Linked DNA regions of Homo sapiens: region 1 is linked to region 2. A link means that fine-mapping ties the variant in region 2 to the expression of a gene that starts in the linked region. Tissue or cell type: whole blood. Region 2 holds a variant in brackets; the other region holds the start of a gene. All regions are shown on one strand. Distances are from middle to middle.

Region 1 (8,104 bases), 490 kb before region 2:
TCTGCAAGCTGAGGAGCAAGGAGAGCCAGTCCAAATCCCAAAACTGAAGAACTTGGAGTCTGATGTTCCAGGGCAGAAAGCATCCAGCACGGGTGAAAGATGTAGGCTGGGAGGCCAGACCCATCCCTCCTTTTCATGTTTTTCTGCCTGCTCTATATTCCCTGGAAGCTGGTTAGATGGTGCCCACTAGATTAAGGGTGGATCTGCCTTCCCCAGCCCACTGACCCAAATGTTAATCTCTTTTGGCAACACTCTCATAGACATACCCAGGATTAATACTTTGTATCCTTCAATCCAATCAAGTTGACACTCAGTATTAACCATCACACCTCCAAATGAGGAAACAGTGTGAACAAAATATTCACCTAAAAGAAGCTGTGATTTGTAAATAAGCAACTGACAGCATATTCGGCCTCTCTGGTAATCAAAGAAAATGCTGACACAAATAACTATGTATGTTTCTTTTCTATGGAATTAACTATGATTTTAAGTTTGCTGTTTAATTCTGGCAAGAGACTCTGAGATAAACACTGGTACTCTTGATTGGGAAGAAAGTAAAGGTCACAGCCAGAACTTATGAATGTATCAAAAGCTTTAAATGCATTTGTAACCTTTGATTGAGTAATTCTGCTTGTCAGAATATACCCTAAGGAAAAAATTATGAAATCCAGATATTTATGTTCATATGGTTATCACAGCACTATTCAACCAGCAAAGAAAATGAAACAACCTAGTAATTAAAATGAGTTAAAGAGCTTTTCTACTTTTACATGAGAAAATGCTCATGACATAATGTTTAGTAGTAAAAGCTCAGCACTTGAAATCACGTATTCAGTAAAATCTCAAGAGTATAAAGCAAATATTCGTAAATGCATAAAAAAGACTAAAGGTAAATAACCTTAATGTGCTGGAGATTGCAAGCAATTCTTAGGGTTTAGGTATCTTTTTGGCTTTTTCTTTTTTATTTTTTCTTTTTGCACAAAGAGCATGTGTTACTGTGATGAGGGGCAAAACCTTTCATTAAAGGCCCAAGCAACATCTACCTACCACCATCTGTAAGGGCTCACCCAGGAGACAGCAACAGCAGCAGGGGACCGCCAACTCCACTCCCAATAAGGAACTAGCACTGAGGATTTGGAAGGCAGTTTCCCATGAGCAGTTTCTTCCCTGAAGAGGAAGAGAAAATTCATCTCCAGGACTGGATCATACCATCTCACATCTTGGAGGGCTCTGCAGCTTGTATCAGCCACAGACAGTCAATGAAGACACAGCTAGAACCGTCCATCCCGGCTGCACTGCAGAGCAAGTTCTTGTCACTGTGCTGAACTTCTGGGTTCTCATCTTTACAATGGACTCTTGGCAATACTCCGTTTAAGAGTATTTATGGGAACTAGACAAGATAAGAACTGGTTTATTATTGCAAGATATAGCTGAGTTTTTTTTTTAACTTCATTAATAAATATCCAACACATGAAGACACACTAATAATACATTTCTTGACTTATGTCAGACTGTTACCATATAATTAAATTTTTCACATAATTATTTTCCCTTCTTAAGAGTCATTTATTTAACATTAGACACTTTCATAGTTAAATTTTCTAAAATATGTCAAATGTTTCCCTGTTAGCTAATTTGCTACACACTAAGACACACTATTTACTTTCTTTTTCAAATGACTTGGGGTCCTTACTATGAACAAAGTATGTGTTAGAGGAGGAAGGGGGCCAATATCTTTAAGTAACTCCAGTGTACTCTCATTGTAATTACCTCTTTAATTATTATCGAATATATTACTCACAACAGCCTAACTTTGCAGATTGCTCCAATTTCCAGGCTGAGAAAAATGAGGCTCAGAGAAAGAAAGTGAAATGCTGAAGGTTACGCAGCTAGTAGGCAGTAGAGTAACTAACCCAGATTGAGTTCCAAAGCCCTGTGGTCTTTAATAGCGCAAGGAACTGTCACATCCTCCAGTGATGGCTGGAGCTGAGATTGCTTTAGTTCTGTAACAAATGCTACTTCGTTCTTGTATCTGACCTCTGCAGTTTGTGGGGCTTTCAATTTTCACTGTTTAGTTCGTTAGTTTATTAATTTTTGGCTTATTTTCTGTAAGGAATTCTCTGCAACATTTTGATGCCTTCAACCTGTCTTACCCTAAGAAATTAAGGAAATCTCTTATGATTACGTCTAAGGCCAGTAGGTTCTAAATGAGTCTGTAAAAGTGACTTCTCTAAGTGTGCTGCAATGACCTAATGACTTGTCCGTTGTTACCTGGCAGAACTTTCTGCTTCTTTCCAACTTTCCAGCTGCATTTCAGATAATTAAAGTTATTTTCTCTCAGGACAGAGGAGCGGGACTACTGTTCCACGTAGACGTATGTGTATGTATTACCAAAAAAAAAAGTTAAACTGTTAAAGTAATCACGGGTGCAGTGGCTCACGCCTGTAATCCCAGCACTTTGGAAGGCCAAGGTGGGTGGATCACCTGAGGTCGGGAGTTCGAGACCAGCCTGACCAACATGGAGAAACCCCGTCTCTACTAAAAATACAAAATTAGCCAGGCGTGGAGGCACATGCTGGTAATCCCAGCTACTCGAGAGGTTGAGGCAGGAGAATTGCTTGAACCCAGGAGGCGGAGGTTGTGGTGAGCCGAGATCACGCCGTTGGACTCCAGCCTGGGCAACAAGAGCAAAAACTCCGTCTCAGAAAAATAAATAAATAAATAAATAAAAATAAATTAATCATTACTCATTGCTGTTTATTAAATGCCTTTTCTGTTCCCACTGTGATTCTACAATCACTGCCTCTGTAAAACCCCGGAATGCAGGTGTTCTTGCCTCCATTTTATAGATGAGGAAATCAAGACTCAGGGCTTCCCCACCAGGCCAAAGGCATTCTGTGAGTAGTTTATTTCAATTCAACATGGCTGTGCTGCACATGGCAGTTGGAGTAAAGATCTATCAGCATCGGGGGTTCTTCATGATCTAACTAAAGTGAATCATGAGTGCTTTCCCACTGCGTCAAGAAGGCCTGGAGTTTGTGCAGCCCGGCTAGAGGTGAGCAAAGCCTCTGTGTTGCAAATCTCCAGGGCGCAGCCTCTCATTGTATTCAATGCAGATGACAGTCCCAAAGGCACCGCCCATACATTGTACAGACAGCTGGCCTGGCTCTCCGGATTGTGCAGGATAGGCCTTAATGGCAGAAGGTAGGGGAGAGGTGGGCGTCACAAAAGTGCTTGGGGAACTATAAAGTAAACAATGAAAAGCAGCACAGGAAGGTTCAGACATCACACAGGAGAAGCACAGGGTGTTCCCCTGGGTGGGGATTTAAAACAAGGGCCTCAAGTTCCCTGCCCTTGTCTCTGGGCAGAAGGGGCAGATAATGCTATGATACATTTTTTGTAGGTGGTGCCATTTGACTGCATTTAACCAACAAAGGTATGTATCGAAATCCACGTGGAGATTTTCATGGCAAAAGTAGAGCGAATTCACAAACTGCACTGTGTCTGGCAGCTTCAGACAAAAGCAATGGGAACAAATCACGACTCTTGTCCAGCAATTCTTCCTGTTTTGGAATGATCTTTGCTCAACAGCCCATCCATGAGTACAGGGCCCCCAAAGGCCAACAAGACAGGGACTCTCTCCAGGGACAAATGCCCCGCAGCTGAGAGAGGCCGCCCAGCTATCCAGCGGCCGCGCAGCCAGCCAAGATTTCAACACAGGTCTGCCCTATTTGGTCACCATCCCCGACAGTGCTGGGCCAGGCCATCATGTCACATTGGGGAGTTTTCCCTGCACTCCAGGGGGAATTCTCAACCACAACCTCTGTATCCGGTAGTGGCAGATGGAAAGAGAAACGGTTAGAAAAGCGTGGTTCTTGCGCAGGAAAGTTGGAGCAAAGAAGAGTTCAGAAGTGGGCGGGTGTGTGTTTAAAAAAAAAAAAGGGGGTGGAAACCCCACCAGCCAAGTCTGCAGAAAAAAAATAAATGAAGTCTGCCTATCTCCGGGCCAGAGCCCCTCCCCTCGGCCCGCGCGGGAGGAGTGTGACCCAGGTGCCGCTTCCTCTCGCCGCCGAGGGTCAGGAGCCCGGGAGCGCGACCCTCCCCCGGCCCGGCCTGGCCCGGCCTGGCCAGTCCCCGCGGTCTCTGCCCGGGCTGACGCCCAGGAATGTGGTCGACGAGAAGCCCCAACAGCACGGCGTGGCCTCTCAGCCTCGGTGAGTACCCGCCGTGGGGAAGGGTCCTGGGGACCCACTGGAGGCCGCGGCCCGCAGCAGCCAGGGGCCGAGCCACGGCCACGGACGCCCTGGTGTCCCGGTCCGTGCCGGGCCTCCAGGCGGAGGAGGCGTCCGCTGGGCTCAGATCCCCGACTCCAGCCCCGGTTCCCCGGCGCCTGGGCTGCGCGGAGTCCCTGTCCCGCGTCCCGGACCCCTACGCGCAGCCTCCACGCGCTCCGAGCTGGAGAAGCCGCCAGCCCGCCCTCCCAGGGCGTGTCGCCCGCTTTCTGTTTCTTTGTGCGGGGCATGTGAAATGTGTGGGGCCAGAATTGTCTCCCTAAAGAACAGTTAGGTGAGAGTTCACATCACAAGTTGCTTCTGTGCTGCTCCCCAGCCAGGGTCCGACCGGCCAGGCTCCGGTGAACTCCAGGCAACTCCAGCCTTGCCCAGGGACTTGCTCGCTCCGCTGGGCGCCGCAAAGGCACACAGATGCGAGGGAATCCTGCGGCCTGGATCCTTTGGGGATTTGTAATTCCTCGCTGCTGGTTTTCTCTTTTAAACCATCACGTTTTCTTGCTGAGAGGAAATCATCTGTGATGAAAGTCTTTGTAGATGCTTGGAAACATTGCTGGGCCTCTCTCTGCCCTCTTCCTCTGCCGTTGGACTTTTGCAATAAAAACTACCATTTGATTTTACCAAAAAACGTAATGTACATCCCTCTTACCCCCACCCTGCCGCGGTCTGATTCTTAGAGTCTGTCAGAGAGGAGATACCCTGAGCCTATCATGTGACAATGATACCTTATTGATATGATAATGATATGGGTATTGGAGACACCAACTCTTTTATAAGTCTTTGAAATCCAGGGGGTTGTGAGGCCTCACCCCTCACCCCGCCTGAGCTTGGAGCTTGGCGTGGAGGAGTGCTGCTTCGGTCTACGTGTGTACACGGCACTCCATGTGCCTGTGGTTGTGCTTGCGTCAGCCTGGGAGTGCGCAGGCATCAGTGGTGCTTGGGAGCGAGGCCCCTCAGTCTGCACTGGGATCATCTGCACTGCCTATAAACAAGGCAGCCTCTCTTAGCTCCAGTTTCCTCATCTGCAAAGTAGGAAAGTAGGAATAATAACAGGAGATAACTCATCCAGCAGCACGAAGTGCGTATAAATGTCCCGGCACGGAGTCTGACACATCCTAAGTGCTGGATCCGTGCTGGGCATGTTTATATAATTGCACATGAGACTGTGGTTCCCGGAGCACGTAACTTGAGCATATGTTTATGTGTGTGTATACGGCAGGTCCTGGGTTAAAGGGACAGGAGCCACTGTCATTATTCCAATTCAGTCACTGAGGAGGTGAGGCTGAGAGGCATTCTCATGTCTGAAGAGGATGGGCTTGCCTGACCCCCGCCCCCGTGCCCAGCCCAGCCCAGCAGCCCAAGCAGTTCTCCAGGACTCAGGTTTCAGACCTTCAACACTTGCCTTGGGAGACAAACAGCGGTGCAGCCCTTGCTTGCAAGCCATTCCACATTAGACTTCGGATTGATTTATGGCAGGATCCCTGCTGTGCGAGAACTGCAGGGGGGGTGGGGGGCGGCTATTTCTTGCTGCTAACTCAGGCAGGATGTGTCTATATCCTGTCTCAGTTTATGTAGCTGCTCATCAGAGCCAGAGGTTAGAGCGGAGAGGACCCACTTCCGCCAGGCCGGCCTGCTCTGCTCAGCTCAGCTGGGCTAGGCCCCAATGCCACAGTTACTGCGCGTGAGTCATGCACAGCAATCCATTGCCTTGCCCTTGGATGGAAGGGGTCAAGGCTCAGTGAGAAGACGGCCAGGTTTGGCAGCTTTATATAGAATTCACCGCCTCTGGCAGAAGCAGAGGATTGCATTAAGTGCCAAATGAAATTCCACCTCAGCCATTGCTCAATTCCTCCAGATGTCACTGGCACTGGGAGTCACATGATGCTGGTGGTCAGCAGCTGGACCCTTCCAAGGGTGCCCGTGGTTGGGCAAGTATTTCTGGGGACTTGCAGAGCTCCCTGGGGAGCAAAGGGTTGTGAAGTACAAGGCATTCTGCGCTTGTGGTGGGAACAAGTGAACCCATCTGCAGTGAGTAGGAAGAGGTCCCCTCAACAGAGGTGAGAGGTTGGGCCAAGTCAAGTCAGTTTGCCTCTTCAGGTGGCAGACCTGTATGTACATCTATGCCTCAAGTGCCTGTCTGAGGCCACAGCCAAAACATCTTCCAGTAACTGAGCATACCCAGTGGGCCAACAAGCACGCTCTAAATACAAAACCAAACAAACAGTAAAGTTAACAGTGAATGAAGAGTTAAAAATAGGAGAAAGACACCTTCTCCCTACCTCAATGGCAATTACTTTATTTATTGAGGATAATCCTTCTAGAAGTAAATTTGCTGATACAAATATTTCTTATTTTACATAATAAAAATGCATTTTATATATTTTACTTCATCTTGTTTTTTTTCCATCAGAATATCTCTTAAAGGTTATACCTTGTTATTTTCTTTAATCAGTTCCTCTGCTGATGGGCATTTAGGCTGTATGCAGACTTCATTTAATTTTTTTAAACCACACACAGCAGTCCTGTGACAATGAGTAAGGAGGATTTTACATGCATGTGTCTGTAAACTGTTAGGATAAATTCTCCCACCTCAGCATTTGATTTCTGGGACAAAGTGTGTATTCATTTAAAATGTTAGTAGATCTTAAGAAACTACCCTCCTAAAGGTCACACCGGTTTCTCATGCTCACAAATAGCCTATGAAAGTCACTATTTCCCTGCGTCCTCACTCACACTGCATTTTTTATCTTGGCCAAACTGAGAGGTAAAACAACAAAACAAACGCTGTCACTTTGGAATGAGCCTCTGTAATTAAGTGAGACTGAGCATGTTTTCTTACTTCCATAAGAGGTTGTATTACTTTTCGGGGAAGTGTCGGTTGATGCTTTTGTCCATTTCCTGTCAGCACCCCACCCCCGTGAGGAAACGTGCCCCAGAAGTGAAAGGACATGTCCTCATCACATGACGAGTGAGGGGCAGAGCAGAGGCCAGAGCAACATCCGTGCTGTGGAGTCAGCCCTGGGTTTGACTGCCCTCCAATGTTCACCAGCTTTGGGAGAGAGAGGAAATACCTCAGCACCTCAGTTTTCCCATCTGTGAGTGGGAATGATAACAGCCACTTCCCCAGAGTCACCCGAAGAGCAACAGCAGAAGGGCCTGGACCTGCTCCCAGTGGCAGAGGCTTGGGAGGTGGCTTTTGTTAGCGAAATTTATTGGAGCAAACCTGGCCTGAGGATGCTGGTAATTTCAGGAGTCACCCTCCAGACAGCTGTTGTTTTTCGCTTTTGATAAAATAACAACAAACTTAGATGCCGAGCCCTGGTAAGGGGCTTTCCTGGGTCTCCCCTGCACACCTGCTATGATAGGCATTTTCTTTTCTTTTTCTTTCTTTTCTTTTTTTTTTTTTTTTTGAGACAGAGTCTCGTGCTCTGTCACTCTGGCTGGAGTGCAGTGGTGTGATCTCAGGTCATTGCACCCTCCACCTCCTCCACCTCCTGCGTTGAAGAGATTCTCTGCCTCAACCTCCCAAGTAGCTAGGACTACCGGCATACGCCACCACACCCAGCTAATTTTTGTATTTTTTGTAGAGACTTTCGGATGAAACACCAGAGGCTCGGGGGAGATAAGCCGCCATAGGGCACCCAGACACTGAGGGCGCAGCCAGGCTGTAGTTACAAACTGCCAGACCCCACAGGCAACTGAGGCCAACCCAAGGAGAGAGTTGCAGGGTATGTGGGCCCACAGCTTGTATGTGCCAGGCAGGGCCTGCTGCTGTGGCTCTGCACACTGAGGAACTGCATGCACAGACACTCAGG
Region 2 (8,104 bases):
TTGGACTTCCTTCCTCTCCTTCTCCTCCCCACCTGCAATGTTAATACCACTTGAGCTTTTAGTTCCAGTTCCATTTAGACTTAGCAGCAAATTCTAATTCCTTTACTCACCACTGCTTCTTGAATCTGTAGCTTTCTCTTGGATTTATTTTCATTGTGTTGAAGTACCTCCTCCTACAGGTAGGATGGAAGGTGACTCATTTTCTCATCTGTGGATGTCTGAAATTGTCTTTACATATTTTACCTTCACACTTGAATGATGGCTTTAGCCGATTCAAACATGTGTCCCTTAGATCTCTAAAAATATTTCCCCTGGGTCTCTGAAGATCTTCCAACATGCAGTGTTGTAGCTAAATCTAATATTAGTCTGCTTTCTCTTAGGAGTAATCTGTTTTCCTTTTCTCCATCCTTCATGTTCTAAGTTTCAGCCCAGCCAGTCTATCATTTTCTGTTCTGCTTGTCATGAAGTGGGCCCCTTCAGGATGAGGACTTTTGTCTTTTGTAGACTTGAGAAATTTCCTTCTCTATTAATCTTAGCGTTCCCCACATCCAACCTCTCTAGTCCCTCTTTCTGGAGCTCCTATTTAAAAGGTATTAACATTTCTGAATCTAGTCTTCATATATCCTCACTTTTATTTTATGCTTTCTATCTCTTCTTTTTGCGGGGCATTCTAGATGAAGTCCTCAATTTGATTTTCCAGTTCACTAATATGCTATTATTGACCTACATCCAGTCTGATCATACTCCAAAAGCCCCTTTTTGAATATACCTTTGAGCGTCTTCTTTTTTATTTCTAAGGCCTCACACCGTTTCCTCTCACAGCTTTCTGAGATTAACTGTGCTTCGTCCGTGTGCTCTGCTTGCTGTTTATCTGGGTATCAGTCTGTTTCCTGTGCTCTGCGTCCCAGTCATGGCAGTGCTTTCCTCAGTGTTCAGCGGCTCTGGTGTGTGCTCGTCTTGTGTTTGAGGTTCTTTGTTACCCAGTCTATGGGTGATGCCTCCAGCCACGGTGTGGGAGAGATGACCGTGGGTGGAAAACAAGCTGGTGGACGTGGTGTGCCTGCATCCGAGGTCCGTTTGTCCAGAGTGTCACCTTGCCTCCCTAGGCTGGGCGTTCACACTGGCAGGAGGGAGACAGAGATCCCTGCTGCCTGCTATTTGGCTAAGTGGGAAAGGTGTGGTGGGAGGAGTAGATAGCTGGCTGGCTTTGTGGTTCCTACTGCAACATCCTAACCCACGACCTACCAGTCACCACCACCCCATTCACCATCTTCAAGCTTAAATTCCCTTCAAAACTGCCTATGACAGCAGGTCTCCCTATACGTATTTTGGGCAGTGGTTTCTTCCTTTCAACCCCACCAATTTCCTTCTTTCAATAATTCCTCGCAACTTTAAATCCACCGAGGCCCCTTCTCGTCTCCTAGAACATTTTTGGATGACATGTATTTATTTTTTCTGGTATTTCTAAGGGTTTGGGACAGGAAAAAGTGGTTGGGGTTCAGTCTGCCATTTTTAGCTAATTTCTAAATAGATTTTTCAAGTGCTCAGAGCAACCCTATGAGCTAGGTATTAGTAATAACTCTCAATTTACAAATGAGGAGACAAGCTTAGAGAAAAAAATACAAAATTTTCTCAAGATTTCACTGCCGGCAAAGAGCAGCACTACGTCCCTAACTCAACTCTGTTCAACACTAAGCCCACTGCCGTCCCATGCGGGTAAGTCGAATGCAAAGCTCTGCCCCGTGATTTTTCCAAAGCATCCAGAAAAAGCCTTACAACCTCCCGGGCTTCTGCTTCTGGAACACACTGGAGGACCACTGCAGCAGGCCATGTCTCCAAAACTCTCCCAATGATCACAGCCGCTAATTCCATTCACTCATGCACACACTCGTTAATGTAGTATACACAGAGCATAGCCTGTGCTACAGACACTGCCAGAACAAAACAGACATGGTCCCAGCTCTCGCGGAACTTCCTGTCTGCTAACAACCCCTCGTGTTACAGATGAAGACTCGAAAACCAGAAAGGAAAGGACTTGCCCAGGATCACACAGTCAGTTAGAGGCAGAGTTGCTGTCAGAATGCAGTCTCCTTACTCCCAGCCCAGTACCCCCCTTATCTTTTTATTTCTTATTAATATTTTATTTATAACTAATACATAATAGCCATACATGTTTATGGGGTACAGTGTGATGTTTCAATGCATATATACATTGTATCATGATCAAGTCAGGGTAATTACCATATCCATCACTTTAAACATTCATCTCCTGTCTTTTCTAAATAAGTAACACATGAACGTTATTGAAAAATTAGAAAATACAGGTGAACAATAAAGGAAGGGGTAAAAAATCACCCATAGCCCCATCTTGCAGAGGTCCAGGATGAACATTTTAGCATTTATCCTTCTAGACATTTTTCTATGCATACGTGTATTTTTTTCTCCTAACAATATTTTTAAGGTCTTACAACATTTGTTTTATCTTACAAAAATACAATAATATTATACACATACGATTTCTCCTTAAGATATACTGGGCAACTTTTACATATTTTAATGAAACATTTCATTTCATTCTCATTTATATAAAATCTATCCCCGTAACACATTTTTCTTGATTAAATGATTCACACAGAAAGTTTATGAATTTCAACTACATTAATAAAGATGAATGACACCATTTTCATAAAGAAAAAATAAATGGCATATGAAATAAGGTAATATACTGAGTATTACAAGTAGACCCACAGCTAGATGTTTTCTATAGCAAAAACTACATGGTTTAGGAAATTGGTCGCCAGAGTTTAGAATATATCCCCACTTTGACTTGAGTCCCTGTACCTATATTATTAATAAGCACTTATCTATCTTTTTTTAAAGCATATTGTGAAAAATGTTCCCAGGTCAACAAATACTGCTGTATCATTCTTAGTCGCTATACAATACCCTACTGTGTGGTTGTATTACACATCAATACCCTATTGTTGGAAATCAAGGCTGATTTCCAATTTTTCACATTTACAAATCAACCCTTCAGTTACTATTCTCATATCTCATAATACTAATCTTCAGCTAGCTTTGTCACCTGCATGATCTTTACCTCTTTATGTCTCAGAGTCCCCATCTGCAGAACAGGATTAAGTGGCCCAGACTGCACACCATGTTTGTCATTATTAAAGGAGAAAGGCCTGGTGAGGCTGCTGGTTCCAGCTGCTGTGTGATGGTGATAATGATGAGTTACCACTTGATGTCCTAGGAGTCCTAACCTGTATAAAAGAGAAAAAAATGAGGGCCCCTGGTCCACCTCAAACATTCCCCAAAGGATTAGCTTGAGTCTAGCACTAAGGGGATGTCACACACACAGCCATCTCCGTTGTAAGTGGACTTGAGGGTCACCAGCTTTCCACAGCCACCATCCTTCTGCTCCTCCAAAGGTCCTCTCACCTCTGCAGAGCACATGTAGACTGGTGAATTTCCAGGAGTGAGCAGTCAAGGGTAGTGGAGACAGAGGGTCAGTTGGATCCCTCAGCTCTGGAATGAACAGGAGTGACCAGAGCCAGGATCTTACAAGAGCTAGTTCTCCTGCTTCTAAGCCTTGCTATCCAGGAATTCTACATGTCAGACACAGCACAGCCTGCTGGCTGCTCTCAAAGAACCCAAATCAAGATCAATTCACAGGCTGGAAACGGTGGCCCATGCCTGTAATCCCAGCACCGGGAGGCTGAGGTGGGAGGATTGCTTGAGCCCAGGAGTTTGAGATCAGCCTGGGGAACATAGTGAGACCCTGTCTCTACAAAAATAAAATTAGCTAGGTGTAGTGGCACCGCCTGTAGCCCTACGCAGGAGGCTGGGGTGGGATTACTTGAGCCCAGGAGGTTGAGGCTACAGTGAGCCATGATCATTCCAGCCTGGGTCACAGAGTAAGACTCCATCTCAAAAAGAAAAAAAAATTCACAGAGGAGGTGAACATCAGAGCACATCCCTAATTTAAAGAAAAAGGCCCTTTTCCCACTTTTATTGCTTTCACTTCCTGTTCCTCTTTAGTGTGGAAACCAGGAGGGTCAGGAGAGAAAGTTCAGAGAGAGACAGGGACCCGCAGGGAAAGCACAGACAGGCCCATCACAGCCTTCTCACATCTCACAGTGGGCGGAGGAGAGACGAGGCCGACCCACAAGTGTTGCCTCTAATTCTTACTGAGAGCTCAATGTTGTCATTTCCATTTTAGAGAGCAGAAAGTTGTTCTAAGAGATCAACCACTAATATTAAAGCTAGTATTTAAGGAACGCTGTGTACCAGGAAGCTGTTAGACACACACAGGTCATTCTCGCTATGAGAACAGAGACTAGTGTTATTCCTGTTTTGCAGATGATTTAACTGAGACACAGGGAGACTCTGGAGTCAGGTCTGTGGCCTCTTAACCACTGAATCATACTCTCTTCCAAACCAGGCTTTGAAAGCAAAGGGCTACTGATTTCCTGGGCCTGCCCACCCGGTGCTCTCTCCTGGGCCGTCTGCCCCAGGGCCTTCCTGGCTCCTGATGCAGAGGAAACTTTCAAGGCTGGGGCTTCAGGGACCAACGCCTTCTTCTTCAAGGACTTTGAAGAAAAACTGGAAAGTGTGACAACCCTAAAAATTCATTCATTCATCCATTTGTTTATTTATTCACTTATTCAGCACAGATGCATTGAGCATTTACTCTGGCTGAGCCAAGCCCTGGAGCAGTGCTGGCAGCATGCAGATGAGGCAGGCACTGCCCTCTGATGAACAGTCCTTCAAGCCGCAAATCTCTGTCCCTCGGAATACTGAAGACATTGTTCCATTGCCTCCTATTGGCCATTGTTGCC[A/C]TCTGATGTTACTTAAGTATGAAATAAAAAAAAAATTCTTTCAAATTCTGTGTATTACTTTTTTAAAACAACTACTAAATTGTTGTTTGGACCTAACTACTTAAATGGAACTATTAGGTGCTTCTTTTGGCCTAGGAAAAGCCATGAAAACATTTCTGAAACACTAAAGGCACCAAGAACCAAGAAAGCTTGGGAAACTCTGCTCTAAGATAAATTCCTACCATTGTATTTGCTGCAGCCGCGGCAGGTTTGTCTTTTTGTATATATACATGAATCCAACTGTCTTCTAGAAGAATTAAATTTAAATTTATAATCTAACAATCAGACAGAGAGAAAGGTTAAAAGTGACATTGATGTAGAGCCTCCAAATAGCTGATTTCTTTCCTCCAACAGACTTTCTTGTCACAAAGAAGCCAAAGACTTTCTTGGAATTATCATTTATTTCCATATATGCAAATTATGCATTTTTATTTTTCAAGTCTATGGACTTTTAGGGGGTTTTTTGAAAAGCACTGGGAGGGTTTTTTATAAGTATGCATCAACATGCCAACAATTGTTTCTCTCTGGATAAGGGATTTCCAGCAATTATTCCTTTTTTCTGTAGAACTTCCTGTATTACCTGAATTTACAATGTTCATAGTCAACCTTTTTATTCAGAAGAAATAAAAACCCATCTTGAGAGGAAGAAAAACTGAATATATTGGATTAAATTTGTACCCAACTTCCATTAATGAGAGCTTAGGACACTGTACTAAAATATCCACCTCCTGTCATCCTCCTTTTGAGAAATGAAACCCCTGGTCATAAAAATAGCCTTTGCTTGCAGTTAGAAGGGAGAGGATTAGAAGGAAAAAAAAAAGGAAAAGCAGAAGGAAAACTGCCTGTTAGCAAATCTAAATTCAGATGAATGTCTGAGGGGCTGAGAGATGGTGCTGGGCCAGAACCAGCTCCCTCAAGTTCCCAAGACCTCTGTGGGGCCAAGAGGGGCTGGGGACTTCATGCAAGGTGCTGATTTCAGAGGCAGCTGTGATTAATTTTAGAAGGCCCTGACATTCTAACTGAGTCATCCTGAGGTGGCCCGATTGGAACTAATTGGGTGAGCCCATTTCAAGCTGGCTGTCTTCTCAAGTGTCCCAACCCTCTGGGGTTCTTCCAGCTCCTGGAATTGGAAGGTCTTGATCCTGTCAGCAAGTGCCATCTCACCAACAAGGAGGGCCAGGGTCTGCCCACCCAGAGTGACAGGACCACCTCAAAACATGCAAAGAGGGTCCTGGCAGCTCTGTGTCCATGGGCAACTCAAAGACAGCCAGGATGATCACTCCTGGGAAGCTGACTCCAGTCTTTCCCATTACACCAGCAACTATAAAGCACTTACTGTATACAAACACCATGCAGCAACCATTCCCAAAACTAATTATTCATATTCCCTACAGAGCTTATTAAAAATATAAATGCCTGGGACCAGCCCTGGGCAGGGGCCCCTGGGGGTTTGTCAGGTAGGCCAGGTCTGGGAGCCACCATTGTGCCGCACCCAGAGCTGAGTGGCATGCAGACCCTGCCCTCAAGGTGCTGGCAGTCTGCTGAGAGCCGGGGCTGTGGTCACAGGAAAGGGACTGTGCTGGCTGATGGTCCCGGCCACGTGTTCCACTCCTAGGCCCCATGAACACATGGCTGCCAACAGGGTGGTCTCCAGAGGAAACTGGGGTCGTTGTTATGGCAAAGAGGATGCTGCGCAGGCACAAGTAGTGACTGTCGTCCTCAGCCTGATCTCCCAGGAGTTTAACATCCCGAACAGCTCCCACGGCACAGAATCAGGGAAGTACCAGGCACCAATACCGTCGCCGGTGCACCCAGCCCCACTCGCACTCCTCTACCAGGCATCCCTCTTGCGAGGGTTTGCGCCTCCCCTCCACCAGGTAGTCTGACCCGCCTCCTGAGCTCAGCAATTGGTTCAGAGGAGAGCACCTGACTCAGGTAGGGCCAATTAGAGCCCTTCCCAGGGATTTTTCAACTCGGGAGCCAGGAGGAAGCCCATTAGGCGTCCAATACAAGAGGAGGCAAACCAGCTTCTACAGCCATCTCCTTGGCTGTATGGAAAAGCCCAGTGTGCCATGGAAGAGAAGGCAACATCCAGGCCACAGGGGAGATGGTGTGCTGGTAGCAGTGAGTTCCTGGTTCCATCACCCTGGCTACTACCCAGGTTTGGCTTGGGTTTCTGTCACTTGCAACCAAAGATTTGTAACTAATACTTACGTGTACATCAGGTTGTCCAAAAAGAGGATGGGTAGACTGGAGAGGAAATGCTGGGGCCAGAGCCCTTCCTCACAGCCCAACAAACCTGCTTCTCAAAGGGTGCTGACCAGTTCATCAGCCTAATTCAGGTTTAGTCATTCAAAAAATTCAACCAGGGAGGTTTGGTTAAGTCAAGGTATGCTTCCTGGAGGAGGGGAATTTAAGGCTGGATTTTGAAGGGAGAGACCACAAGGCACTCCCAAGCAGTACTGCAGATGGAGGAGCTCTATTCCAGGAAAGGCTGTAAATACTTCCTGACTCGCAGAAAGATCTTCAGAGACACACATACTGTCCTCTCGCTATTCTTAGCAGCATGTCATGCAGGGAGGGCCCAGGATCCCTGTGGCTGCACGTCCTGGGGGAAAGATGAGCTGGCCCCTCAGCCTGCTTAGTTCCTGAGCTTAGCAAGTGAGCCCGGCTCACACTGCAGCCGGGGATTAAAGCCGAGGGGCTCCAGGAAGCCTCTTCTGAGAGTGCCGGAGTTGGAAGTGCGTCCAGCCAACAGGCCTCTTTAATTCCAAGGGTCTGGGCTGAGGCATCCTGACAGCTCGGGGGACCCCGGCCCCCAAGGGCTGCATAGCAGTAGAAAGTTTACCCTCATCTTGATAACTTTGCCTAGACTTCTGGACTCACCTCTGTCCCAGCATGGGACATGCAGATTGACAGGGCCATCCACAGGGTCAGAGTTTCCTGGAGTTTCAAGTTTTCTCCTAAAGATATTCACATGTATTGTTTAACAGCTTAAGACATCATTCTCATACCATACAATTCATCCATTTAAAGTGTACAATTCAATGGCTTTTAGTGTATTCACACAATTGTGCAACCACCACCACAATCAATTTTATAACATTTTCATTACTCCAAAAAGAAACCACCTCCAATTGCTCCATCCCCAATACCCCTCCCAATCGCTCCATCCCCTGTAGCTCCAGATCTGTTTTGTATCTCTATAGATGGCACTATTC

Which allele goes with the higher level. Alleles are on the strand shown, and positions count from the first base shown. SD is a standard deviation of normalised expression in the study named.
With allele C in place of A in region 2, the expression in whole blood of the gene that starts at base 4,060 in region 1 is lower (large effect, 1.8 SD a copy in TwinsUK).

What was found. PIP is the estimated chance that this variant, and not a neighbour inherited with it, causes the effect.
Region 1: it holds the start of GYPC, and the variant in region 2 is fine-mapped to the expression of GYPC in whole blood (TwinsUK, PIP 0.95).

Annotation. Positions count from the first base shown.
Region 1 is chr2:126,652,099-126,660,202 of GRCh38, forward strand. GYPC (glycophorin C (Gerbich blood group)) reads left to right here and starts at 4,060. Exons shown (of 4, transcript NM_002101.5): 1 at 4,060-4,214. The coding sequence starts at 4,166. RefSeq lists enhancers at 3,710-3,999, 4,793-5,632, 5,090-5,339, 5,530-5,759 and a silencer at 4,090-4,459.
Region 2 is chr2:127,139,816-127,147,919 of GRCh38, forward strand. No RefSeq gene overlaps it. Among named protein-coding and RNA genes, the nearest start is that of BIN1, 37 kb to the left of the region's middle. The variant A/C (reference allele first, on the strand shown) is at 4,845.